3 separate regions of the Homo sapiens genome follow, and all the other regions are linked to region 1. Evidence: fine-mapped expression QTL. A gene starts in region 1. Each other region holds a variant in brackets. All regions are shown on one strand. Distances are from middle to middle. Region 1 holds the start of LSP1 (lymphocyte specific protein 1). Region 2 overlaps TNNT3 (troponin T3, fast skeletal type). Region 3 has its middle 5.0 kb from the start of TNNT3.

Region 1 (4,192 bases):
CTCCCAGCGACGATGCTGGGGCTGCCCTTCTGCAGGCCAAGGGAAGGACCTCAAGGGCAGGAGGACACAGGCATTGCACCTGCCGATGCAGTGCCTGGACGGGTGGGTGAGCGGAATGGCTGCAACCTGGAGGCGAGACCCTACCACCATGAGGGGAGCCGTTTCAGGATGGCCTCAGGATGGAGGCCGCATGGTGAGAACCGCAGGGCTCTGCCATGTGCCACTCTGCAAGGGGGACTTGGGGGCCCTTAGGGACCCCCAGGGAGGAGGCGTGGGGAAGACACAGGCATGGCCTGTTCATCTCCATGGCGCTGGGCCTGATCTGGTTTTAGCCCTGCCCATCGTCTGGGCCACGGATCCCTCTGGTGCCTCCACTCGTGGGGCTCTGAAAGCCTCTGCTGGTCTTTGTGGTGTGTTTGGTGGGTGGGGGGCTCGCTGAGTCCCAAGGAGGCGGCCTCCGGTTCGGCCCCACCCTGATGGGTCAACACTCTGGGCCCAGGGCCCTCCCAACCCCTGGCCTCTCTCCAGCCCCTCTTTGCCTTGGGACCCCCTGTAAGTCCTTGCTGGTTGGATTTCTCAGGCCCAGCCGCTGGCCAGGGCTCCCTTCTCCCATTCTCCTGCGCTGAGGTTTCCAGCAGGGAAGCCTTCGCCACCTCTGTGGCTGCCCTACTCTGGCCCAGCTTAAGTCCTCCCCTGCCTCAGCTTTTGGGGTCTGGCTCCTGCAGTCATGCATCCCTCCTCCTGACCCTGGAGCCACTGCGTGGTCACTCCCAGAAGCTGGGGACAGTGAGGGCTGGAAACAGCCTCCATCCCTCCCCTCGGGCTGGCCTATGCCTCTTGGGAGGGTCCCTGAGGCACTGCCTTTAGAGCCTGGGGACACGAACCACTCGGTGGTCAACTCCAGCGACCAGAGCACGGAGAGCAAGGGGCAGCGGGGGGACGAGGCGGATGCCCGACAGCTCGGCATCAGCAAGGCAGTCCAAGACAGAACAAGGCACCCGACGGGTAGAACGCAGGGGCATCCCGGGCACAGCCCCCAAAGCCACCTGGGACCCACAGCTGTTTGATGTGCTCAAGGCTATGACCCCAGGCTTCGAGAAAAGACTCCACCAAGTTCCATGAGCACCTGTAGGAGAGCCGGCCTCTGGGTAGATTTCACCCAAAGAAGCTAAAACGCTCACGTGGTGCTTATGGGATCACAGACGTGTTTGTCCCTGATGCTGCAGGAGAACTGGCCACTCACAGGTGGACCTGATGGCCAGAGCTACTAGCGGGGACCAGGGGTAACATGGGTCCCCCTCCCCGAGCCATGAAGAGCTGCCTGCGGCCATCTTGGCCCTCGCACCCCGTCTCTGTCACCCCAGGCCCCTGTAACTTGCTTAACGCTTCCTGAGGGGTGGTTTGGGTTTTTTTTTTTTTCTTCCTCTCCTCTTGTAGCAACAGATTAAAAAACAACACCCTGACCCAAGCCGAGACAGGTTCCAAACCTCAACCTGCAGCCGGAAGGGGGAAGTGAAACTCGGCTGGGGGTGGGGGCTCAGAAGCCGCCCCAGAAAGCACTGAAAGCCACAGCACGTACACCCACTCCAGGGATCTGCCAGCACCCTGTGGGGCCCAGACTACAGGCTGATGGCGGAGGCTTCGAGTGACCCGGGTGCCGAGGAGCGGGAAGAGTTGCTGGGGTAAGGGTCTGCGGCGACGCCCGGCGCCCTGTGCCGTGTCCACGGGTGCATAGTCCTTGAGCTGCATGGAGGGTGGAGAACTGAGGTGCCTGATGGGGAATCTGGGGCCCCCAATGGGAGAACTTGGATGTCCGATGGGGAAACTGGGGACCCACAGACAGGTGGCAGGAAGTCTTGCTGGGACCCCCCTCTCACAACAAGGGTGGAGGTCTCTTCCGCCTGCCTCTGTGCCCTGGACTCACTGGGGGAGGCGCGTGGGATCCTAAGCCCATGGTGGATGCCTGAAGCGAGGAGACCCCAAGACGTGTCCTGGACTGCCAGGGAGGAGCTGGGGACTGTGGGCCCTGTTAGCTTGGGAAGAGGCAAGGTGGGGGCTGGGGAGCAGCTGTTCTGGGATGGGTGGAACTGGCCCGGGCCTGGCCACCTGCCCACAGGACTATCTGAGAGGGGCTATCCTGCCTTGAGGGTCTGGAGGCCGCCAGGCTTGGGGCCCAGCAGGCCTCAGGGCAGGGCACCCAAAGCTGCCCTTGACCTGCGGTAAAGGACAAGGCCAAGGATTCTGGCAGGTGCCTGTGCTGGGTGCCAGGCACCGTGTGTTGGTTGGAGTGGGGACATGAGGGGGCATGGCAGAGGTTGTGTGTAGGACTGCCAGAGCTGGGCAGAAAAACCCCGCTGCCAAAGGCCTCCTAGCGGGCAGCTGTACTCTGTGGTACCAATGGGCATCCAGCCCTGTGCTGGGGTGGGTGGAGAGGGCTAGCGGCTTAGTAACTGGGCTCCCTGGCAGAGGGGAGCTGCCGGCCAGCAGGCATCCAGGCATCACAGCTGAGCCTCGCCAGGGGAACCCGAGTTGCCCCCGGTGCAGGTCCCAGAAGAGATGGGAGGGCTCAGGGCGTGCGGTGCAGGGACAGGTAGGGCTTTGAGGGGCAGAGGGGCGACGTGCTAATGGTCAGGGGATGGGGATCCGGTGCTGGGGATAGAGGCCGGCCTAGGAGCAGGTCAGCGGGGGCTGTGGCCTGGTGTGCGGAAGGGAAGGCGCTGGGGCCCAGGTTGCAGAAAGAGTGTGATGCCCGCAGCCACACAGGACGGACCTGAGAGGAGGCCCAGGGTGACGCTCACATACCCCAAAACTGCAGCCAGGGCTGCTACCAGTCTCTGCCTTGGTGCTGACAGCAGAGGGTCCCGGTCTACCCGACCCGGGGCGGTGCAGGGACCACCTCCCGGCCTTCACACAAAGCTCCTGTGCTGTTGGTGGCTGCAGTCACTGTCCTGTGTCTGTGTCCTTGGTGGCCGTCACATTGCTGTGGGTCTGGTATGTGTGAGGGGTCTGCATCTCTGACTTCTTGCTGCCAAATCCCACTTGGGTACAGGTGCGGGGGGCCACTGAAGGGACCCCGAGTGCCGTGAGTGGAGTGGAGGCTAAGCAGAGGCCGGGGCTGGCTGAGGGCTGGGTCGGGACGTCCGTGCCTGTCCCCAGGGAGAGGTGGGAGGATGCCCTGCCCAGGCCGTGTGCAGGGAGACAGGCTTCTGGGTGCACAACAGCTGTGTCCCAGCTGCAAAACGGGCCCTCCTGTCAGCACCACCCCCAGCCCTGGACTAGGTGCTGCTCCTGGTCACCTCATGCCCATAGAAGGGCAGGACATGAGCCTCTGGGCTGGGGCACCCCCGCCTTCCTCCTTGGCCTCATCCTTGGCCACCCCCTCCCAGCTGTCTCAAATGCCCTGGATCCCCCGGGCCAGGAGCGGGGAGGGGGGGTTGGAGCGGGCATGGCCAAGGCACAGATGATCCTGGGGCATCTTGGTGCAGATCCTGGGAGGCCAGGGCTGCACCTGTGCCGGGGCTGTCAGGCGCTCCAGCTGGAGAGCGGCGGTTCTCCTGGGCTCTGCAAAGCCTGGACCCCCTCCTTGGACATCCCCTGCCCCCGCGAATTGCATGGGGTGCGCAGCCAAGCCTGACCTTTCAGAATGAAACTGAGAGCCCCAGTGGGGTAGGCTTCTCATTTCACAAGGTGACTAAGGGAACCGGGGAGTTTCCTGTCTAGGATGGGACAGAAGTCCCCTGCACCCAGGCAGGGATGTATGGCCTGGGAAGCCCCCACACGGGAGTCCCCAGGAAGGCCCAGGCTGGGCAGGCTCAGCTGGGGCTGGAGCAGTGGACAAGACAGCCCCCCGTGCATGTCACAGAGTGCCAGGTACGCCAGCCTGTGACGGTCTCAGGACATGCCCTCAACACTAGGTCCAGGGCAGGCCAAGCCCCTCCAGCTGGACAAGTGGGTCCAGCCCCTCAGACTGTCGCATGATGTGGCCCCTCCCCTCAGACTGCCCGGGACGGGGCCAGATTCCTCAGAACCACCCCTCCATGATGTGGTCTCTCAGATGCCCCCAGGACAGGACTGTCCTCTCCCACGAGGCCTCAGGCCAAAGAAGGTCCCCTGACCCTGGGCGGGGTCCAGGCTCCGCTTCGGCTACCAGCCAGGCTGGACTGCGGTTCCTCCACTCGGGGGCACTCCTGTC
Region 2 (4,196 bases), 85 kb after region 1:
ATCAGGGACCCACTGGCTTTGGATAGATGCGGCCACAGCGGGCCCCCAGGGGCTCCAGAGCCTGGAGGGCCATCACCAGGCCAAGCTAGCCCACAGCCGGGCCTCGATGCCCCAGCCGCCCATCCAGCCTTGTAACCATCTTGGTCTTTCTAGATCATGAATGTCCGGGCCAGAGTGCAGATGCTGGCCAAGTTGTAAGTAGCCGGGTCCGCCCTGGGCCAGGCCCGTGGGTGTGCGTTGCACGGTGAGGTGAACCTCTCGCATGGCAAAAACCTGGATCGCTCAGGATGCTGGCGGCAGGGGGCCTGGAGCCTTCCTCCTGCCCCCGCTCTCCCCTCGTGCCTGCAGCCGGGGGCTTCCCAGTGGCCGCTGCCCTGTTGGCAAGCGAGGAAGGGCCCCCACCTTCCCAGGAGCTCCGCCTCAAGCCAGCAGCGGCCACAGAGTGCCCCTGGGCACAGGCACGAGGGCGGGAGCGGCTGGCCCAGGAGCAGCAGGGCCGTTCGGAGCTCTGAGCTCAGCGGCTGAAGGGAGCTGGAGCTGAGAAGGAGGGGTCCGCAGGCCTCACCTGCAACCCCTCCCCAGCCCCATCCGTGCTCCGTACCCCCCGCCCCACATCCTGCCGCAGGCTGAAGGTAAGTGGCCAGCTACGGGCTGCTGTGTGTGGCAGTCCAGGCCAGTACAGGCTGGCGAGAGTAAGTCCAGGCATGAGCCCAGGGGCCACGGGACGGTGTCCCCCTGCACAAGGAGCCAGGAGACAGTAAGGGAGCCGAGGAGCCCTCATGGGGGCCCAGCAGCCCTGGGTCGCGCAGCCCAGCCCACCCTGCGGTGGAGACAGGCCTTCACCCAGTACACGCAGGCCTGGCCCTCGGGTCGTCGCAGTGAGTCACTCATGTTGTTCACAGATCACCACGCTCAGGAGCCGCATTGACCAGGCCCAGAAGCAGTGAGTAGCCCTGCCGTCCTCGCTCCGCACTGGGCACAGGGGCCCTTGGGGCCAGCCGCTGTAGCCAGTCCCTAACAAGGGCCGGTGGTGGCTGGCCTCGGCAGGGCAGTAACGAGACTAACCCGGCCAGGCCACCCAGGCCAGCATGCGCAGGCCTGTGGCCAGGGACCCGGAGCCTCCTCCCTCTCCTGCACGCAGGGGAGCCCTGGGGGGTGGCAGAGTCAGGAGGAGGGATCCCAATGGGGCTTGCCTGTCACGCCCTCGCCCCGAGTCTGGCACTGGCTGCAGGGAGAGGGCAGCCAGGGGACCCCTAGAAGGGGCTACTCGGGGGGCCTTTGGTGTGGCCAACCTGGGCCCCAGGGTATCCCGCCAGTGTCCCACCCTCCAAGGGGACCTAGGACAGGGAATTAAGCAGTCAGGGCTTCATCACCAGCCCCTCTGTGACGCTGGGCAAAATCATGGACTCCTCAGGATGGTGAAACCTCATCCATAAAATCGTGTCCCTGGGGGCTGTGGGATCCCTTGACACAGCTACTCGACCACCTGCATGGGGCTGCACCCAGGGTGCCCCCGGCGATGCCACGCTGGGGATCCTGTCATGGAGCCCAGCTGCACAGCCAGTGCCATTTCCCCAAGGATCGCAGTGTTTGGGGGCTACTTGGAGTTTCGATGTTTTCTGGGATTCTTCTCCCTCCTCCTGTCGCCTTGGCTTCCCTGCGGCGCCCAGGGCGGGCTCCTCCGTGGTGCACGTGACCTCACGGC[C/T]TCCCTGTTGTGCCGTCAGGGGTCATTGCAGACCCCTCTGAGGGTGGGCAGTCGGCGTGGTGTGCATGTGCCTGCGTGTGTGCATGTGTGCATGTGCCGAGAGTGCCCAGGAACGTGTGTGAGGGCACGGCCTTTGCCAGCCAGGTGTCCTGCTGAGCAGCCGCGTCTGAATGGGGCCGGCCTCGCGGGCCGAAGCACTCCTGTCCTCCACCCGCCTTCACCCCTCACCCGCACCCAGCTCCTCCCGGCTCGTGGCCACATGAAGACCTCAGACAAATGGGGCAGGCTCCTGGGCCCCTCAGAGGCCACCGTCTGGAGGGGCATGAGCTCTTTCAAGGCCAAGCGTCTAGGATTATATCATTATCTGCTAAGACAGTCTTCCCCAGCTCAGGGGTCTGTCTGCAGTGGTACCTCAGGCAAAGAAAGGAGGACAGAGGGAGGGTGCCCCGGGCTCACGTGCCAGCCCCCTAACCACACTAACGACCTAGGCCCGCCAGGCACAGGTGAGTGGGCACTGCCCGGACTGAAGCTGGGTGTGGGCCGCAAGCTTGGGCCGGGCCTGTGCCCTGAGAGCAGCCTGGGGTCGGGCTGAGAGTCCGCCCAGGGTGGGGGACCAGGAGGGGCATGGCCAGAGGCCCTGACCCTGAAGGATCACTTGCTTCCCATTTGCAGCAGCAAGAAGGCTGGGACCCCAGCCAAGGGCAAAGTCGGCGGGCGCTGGAAGTAGAGAGGCCAGAAAGGCCCCTCGAGGCAGAGACCCTCCGCCCTCTTGCACACCAGGGCCGCTCGTGGGACTCCACATCCTCCAGCCCCCACAATCCTGTCAGGGGCTCCCTGACAGTCCTGGGGGTGGAGAGGCCATCCCGGGGCGTCCCCCGCGTCTGTGTCCTTGCTGCCTTCATCCCCTGGGGCCTGTGAATAAAGCTGCAGAACCCCCTTCACAGTCTGTACTTGCTTCTGCATGGGGGCCCCGGAGGACACGAGAGGAGGCAGGTAGGGGCTAGCCAATGGCACAGCGTCCTGGTCATCCGCGGGGCCAGCTCAGGAGGGCACTGGCCAGTACGCGCAGGGCCAGCTCAGGAGGGCACTGGCCAGCACGTGCCACCTGCTGCTACGGCCAGGGCGGTGCCTGGATGCCCATCAGACGCTGCCCACAGCTTTTCCCTCTAAAACGTGGGCTCCATCCCCGCGCAAGCCTATAGGGCCCCTCCACTCTCCACTCCCATAGGGTCTTTGTGCAGAAGGGGGTGATCTGCAGGCCTCACCCCCAGCCCCAGACCCTGGCCATCTGCGCCAGCTGTCAATCCACTGGGGGCAGAGAAACTTTGCCTCGGGAGGGGGTGAGGGAGGAGGGCAGGGCTGCGAAAGAGACTTTGCCACCCCCCAGAAAGGCAGAGGCAGGCGGGAGCGGCTCCTGCGTGAGGGGTGCACCCCAGGCCCTGGTCGGGGAAAAACAGTGCAGGAGAGTGCACTCCCAGCAGACAGCAGGCAGGGAAGACACAGACAGCCTTCTCCGGAACGCAGGACAGCAGAGCGCACGCGGGTCGTAAATCTGAAAATCCTGACCAGAGAAAATTATGGAAAGTATAAATCATAGAAATTGGATCAAGACGCAGAGACTTGTACAGCAAAATATTCACAGAGGAAGGTTTGGAGTCCAGAACGGCCCCCAGAAAGACTCAGGGGCGGGCGGGCGGCCACATCCGGGAGTTCTGCTGCCGGGGATGGGGGCCAAGGAGCGGGGGATGGGGGGGAGCAGCACGGCCCCCTCAGTCTGCGATGGGGTTGGGGACAAGGCCAGGACCCAGAGGACAAAACAGAACCTCCAGATAGCATCACACACATGTGCAGACCCTGCAACACACACACACATAACATCACCCCCCACAACACACACACACAGAAACATCACCCCGCACACACACACATACAAATAATATCCCCCCCAACACATGCACACACAGAAACATCACCCCCCACAACACACACACACACAGAAACATCCCAGGTGTGTGACCCCACAACACACACAAAGAAACATCATCTGAGGTGTGTGACCCCACAACACATACACACACACACACACACACACACACACACACACTCCCACACTCCAGCCTGGGAAACAGAGTGAGGCCCTGTCTCTCTCTCACACACACACACACTCCCACACTCCAGCCTGGGAAACAGAGTGAGGCCCTGTCTCAAACACACACACATGCAGAAACTAACCAGAGTGAGACACTGTCTCAAACACACACACACAAAAGCAGAAACCAGAGACCCTGTCTCACACACACACACACACACACACACACTCCCACACTCCAGCCTGGGAAACAGAGTGAGACCCTGTCTCAAACACACACGCACAAGCAGAAACTAACCAGAGTGAGACACTGTCTCAAACACACACACACACACACACACACACACACACACACAAGCAGAAACCAGAGACCATGTCTCACACACACACACACACACACGC
Region 3 (4,196 bases), 61 kb after region 1:
ATTTATTTATTTTTAAGCCAGAGTCTCACTCTGTCGCCCAGGCTGGAGCGCAGTGGCGAGATCACGGCTCACCGCAACCTCCGCTTCCTGGGCTCAAGTGATGCTGTCACCTCAGCTTCCCAAGGAGCTGGGATTACAGGCACCTGCCACCACGCCTGGCTAATTTATTTTCATTTTTTGTAGAGATAGGTTTTTGCCATGTTGCCCAGACTGATCTGGAACTCCTAGGCTCAAGTGATCTGCCCTCCTCGGCCTTCCCAAAGTGCTGGGATTACAGGTGTGAGCCACTGCGCCCGGCCAACACAGCAGCAATATTTAATTTTGTTGATCTTCATTAATTTTTATTTTTCATTCTATTAACCTCCTATGTTTCTTATTATTTCCATTGCTTTCTTTCCCTTGGTTTTAGTGTTTTGTTCATTTCCTAATTTCATAAACTAGATGCATACTTATTAATACTTTCCCCTCTCTATTTTTTTGTTCTGGGGTAATCCATACTTTGTTTTCTTTGTTTTTTGGTTTTCCTCCTTTCTTTTTTTTGAGATGGAGTCTCGCTCTGTCGCCCAGGCTGGAGTGCAGTGGCACAATTTCGGCTCACAAACCTGCCTCCCAGCTTCGCGCCATTCTCCTGCCTCAGCTTCCCGAGTAGCTGGGACTACAGGCACCCACCACCACGCCCAGCTAACTTTTTTGTTTTTTTTTTTTTGTTTTTTTTTTAGTAGAGACGGGGTTTCACCGTGTGTTAGCCAGGCTGGTCTCGAACTCCTGACCTCGTGATCCGCCCGCCTCAGCCTCCCAAAGTCCTGGGATTACAGGCGTGAGCCACCGCGCCCGGCCCCCGCTTTCTGATATAAGCATCCAGGCCTCGCATTTCCCTCTGTCTTGTTTTAGCTGCACCCAGGGCTTTGCTCTGGGGTCTCCCATTCTCCTTCAGTTCCAGCCTCACCCACTCTCCCTGACCACGTCCCCTCTGATCCCTGAGCTATTCAGGTGTGTTTTTACTTTCTAACCCTTGCTGAAAGGGCCGCCTTCTAGTTAGTTGGGTTCTGACTTGGCCGCAGAGGGCAGACAGTTGGCTGGGGCATTCTCGTGTCCATGGCCAGCTTTGGTCACTGTCTCTCACGTGTCCTCTGGTTTGGAGGCTCTGCTTCAGTCCCTGTCTGTTCCACTAAGCCAAGTCGTTTCGTTCCAGTCCTAGACGCCTCACCCCGCGCTCTGCGGTGAGCACGAGCTGTGCACTGGGATCGCGGACTCCTTTTCCCTCGTCATGCTGCCACGGGCTCCCACTGCACTCCCAGTCCCAATTGCAGGATGCGTGGGGGACGGAGCCCCTGTCCATGGGTGGTGACCACCTCTGTGCCCAGCATAGCTGCTTGCCTCCTGTCCATTTGGTGCTCCTGGGGGGCCTTTCAGAACCAGGCAGCACAGCAAGATTGGTGACATCCAACCAACAGATTTCACCCGGGCGTACCCCGGTTCCCACCTGTGCATTACCCAATGAACACGCCTGGTTGGGCGCAGCGTAGCTGAGACTCCCATGTGCAGGCCTGCTGTGGGGGTGCAGGCCCACGGTGCACATTGGTGTGTGTTGTGGGGTCACACACCTGGGATGATGTTTCTGTGTGTGTGTGTGTGTTGTAGGGTCACACATCTGGGATGATGTTCTGTATGTGTGTGTGTGTTGTGTGTGGGGTCATGCACCTGGGATGTCTCTCTGTGTGTCTGTATGTGTTGTAGGGTCACGCATCTGGGATGATGTTGCTCCTTATGTGTGTGTGTGTTGTGTGTGGGGTCACACACCTGGGATGATGTTTCTCTGTGTGTGTGTCTGTGTGTGTGTTGTTGGGTCACACACCTAAGATGTTTTTCTTTGTGTGTGTGTGTGTGTGTTGTGTAGTCACACACCAGGGATGATGTTGCTCTGTGTATGTGCCTATGTGTGTTGTAGGGTATATACACCTGGGGATGTTGCTCTGTGTGTGTGTGTGTGTGTGTGTGTGTTCTGGGGTCACACACCTGGGGATGATGCTCTGTGTGTGTTGTGGGGTGTACAAACCTGGGGAGGATGTTGCTCTGTGTGTGTTCTGGGGTCACACACCTGGGGATGATGTTGCTCTGTGTGTGTGTTGTGGGGTCACACACCTGGGATGTTTCTGTGTCTTTGTGTGTGTGGGTTGTGGGGTGTACACACCTGGGGAGATGTTGCTCTGTGTGTGTTGTGGGTGTACAAACCTGGAGATGTTTCTGTGTGTGTGTGTGTGTGTGTGTGTGTTGTGAGGTCACACACCTGGGATGATGTTGCTCTGTGTGTGTCTGTGTGTGTGTTGTGAGGTCACACACCTGGGGATGATGTTTGTGTATGTGTGTGTTGGGTGTACAAACCTGGGGATGATATTTCTCTGTGTGTGTGTTGTGGGGACACACGGATGATGTTTGTGAGTGTGTGTGTGTATGTGTTATGGGGTCACACACCTGGGATGTTTCTCTGTGTCTGTGTGTTTTGTGGGGTCACACACCTGGGATGATGTTT[C/CTGTGTG]TGTGTGTGTGTGTGTGTGTGTGTGTGTTCTGGGGCCACACAACTGGGATGATGTTTCTCTGTGTGTGTGTGTGTCTTGTGGGGTGTACACACTTAGGGATGATATTGCTATGTGTGTGTGTTCTGGGATCACATCCCTGGGGATGATGTTATTCTCTGTGTGTGTGTTGTGGGATAGGACATCTGAGATGATGTTTCTGTATGTGTGTGTCTGTGTGTTGTGGGGTCACACACGTGGGATGATGTTTCTGTGTGTGTGTGTCTGTGTGTGTATGTTGTGCGGTCACGCACCTGGGATGATGTTTCTGCGTGTGTGTGTATGTGTTGTGGGGTCACACACCTCAGATGATGTTTCTTTGTGTGTGTTGTGGGGTCACACACCTGGGATGTTTCTGTGTGTGTGTGTGTTGTGGGGGGTGATGTTTCTGTGTGTGCATGTGTTGGGGGGGATATTATTTGTATGTGTGTGTGTGCGGGGTGATGTTTCTGTGTGTGTGTGTTGTGGGGGGTGATGTTATGTGTGTGTGTTTTGGGGGGGTGATGTTTCTGTGTGTGTGTGTGTTGTGGGGAGGTGTGTGTGTTGGGGTGATGAGTGGATGTGTGGATGGATGGATGGAGGGAGGGATGGATGGATGAAGGGAGGGTGGATGAAGGGAGGGAGGGAGGGATGGATGGATGCATGAATGGGTAGATGGATAGATGAAGAGATGGATGGATGGATGGATAGACAGGTAGATGGATGGGTAGATAGATGGATAGGTGGGTGGATGAATGGATGGATAGACTAATGATGGATGGATGGATGGATGGCGGGAGGGATAGATGAAATGGAGGGATGAGTGGATGGGTAGGTGATTGTATGGGTGGTTGAAAGGATGGACAGACGGAGGGATGGATGATGGAAGAGAAGGAGGGAGGAAGGAAGGAAAGGAAGTGGTGAAGGTGAGAGTGAATGCATGGGAATGAATAGATGGGTGGATGAATGGACAACTGTGTGAAATAGCAGACAGCCTGGGGACACCCTCCCTCCTGTCCCTCCTCTCCCAGGTCTTGCACTGGGCCCTGACACTCAGCCCTGCAGCCTTCAGCGTCTGGGAAGTCCCTTCGAGGAGCAGCACCCCAGACTCTGATGTTCTGGACTTCACTTTGCCATTCCCTTGGGTCCTCACAGCCACTATTTTCTGAAGGCTTCATGTCAAACCCTGCTTGCCTCATGAATACACACAGTTCAGAAAAGCAAAACCTCGACAGAGCCACCACCCACACAAGGGAGGTGACGTGCCCCCATCCTTTCTCAGATGCCCCAGCCACTGAGAGAGGATCCAGGCCACCCTCCCCAGCTGGGGAACCACCCAGTGACAGCACTCCCCTTGTTTCCCACCTGATCCGCTTGGGACGGTGACCAAGGGCAGCCGAGAGGCAGGCCCAAAGGCCACAGTTGGGCACTCAGCACTGGGGTGCAGAGTGGACAGCACCAGGGGCAGGGGGTAGTTGGGGTCAGCAGTGCTGAGGAGGCAGCCACTGCCCACCCCGCCCCCGACCAGCCCTGGCCCCTTGTCAGATCATCTGCACCCCTCGGCTCAGCCTCGAGAACAAGGACCCAGGGCCTGTCCCTCTGAGCTCTACCCAGCCACAGCCCTGCTGTGTTTCTGATGCAGCCTCCCGT

Evidence for each region. PIP is the estimated chance that this variant, and not a neighbour inherited with it, causes the effect. A credible set is the group of variants that fine-mapping cannot tell apart.
Region 2: its variant is the best candidate, but not a certain one, in a credible set for the expression of LSP1 in whole blood (INTERVAL, PIP 0.60).
Region 3: its variant is the best candidate, but not a certain one, in a credible set for the expression of LSP1 in whole blood (INTERVAL, PIP 0.73).

The regions. Positions count from the first base shown.
Region 1 is chr11:1,851,516-1,855,707 of GRCh38, forward strand. It overlaps LSP1 (lymphocyte specific protein 1), which reads left to right and starts at 1,569. Exons shown (of 11, transcript NM_002339.3): 1 at 1,569-1,682. The coding sequence starts at 1,630. RefSeq lists enhancers at 300-349, 1,341-1,660, 3,511-3,940.
Region 2 is chr11:1,936,061-1,940,256 of GRCh38, forward strand. It overlaps TNNT3 (troponin T3, fast skeletal type), which reads left to right. Exons shown (of 16, transcript NM_006757.4): 15 at 903-943; 16 at 2,378-2,642. The coding sequence ends at 2,432. Among named protein-coding and RNA genes, the nearest start is that of MRPL23, 9.2 kb to the right of the region's middle. RefSeq lists an enhancer at 1-295. The variant C/T (reference allele first, on the strand shown) is at 1,706.
Region 3 is chr11:1,912,609-1,916,804 of GRCh38, forward strand. It overlaps a transcript of PRR33 not described here. Among named protein-coding and RNA genes, the nearest start is that of TNNT3, 5.0 kb to the right of the region's middle. RefSeq lists a silencer at 3,813-3,862. The variant C/CTGTGTG (reference allele first, on the strand shown) is at 2,531.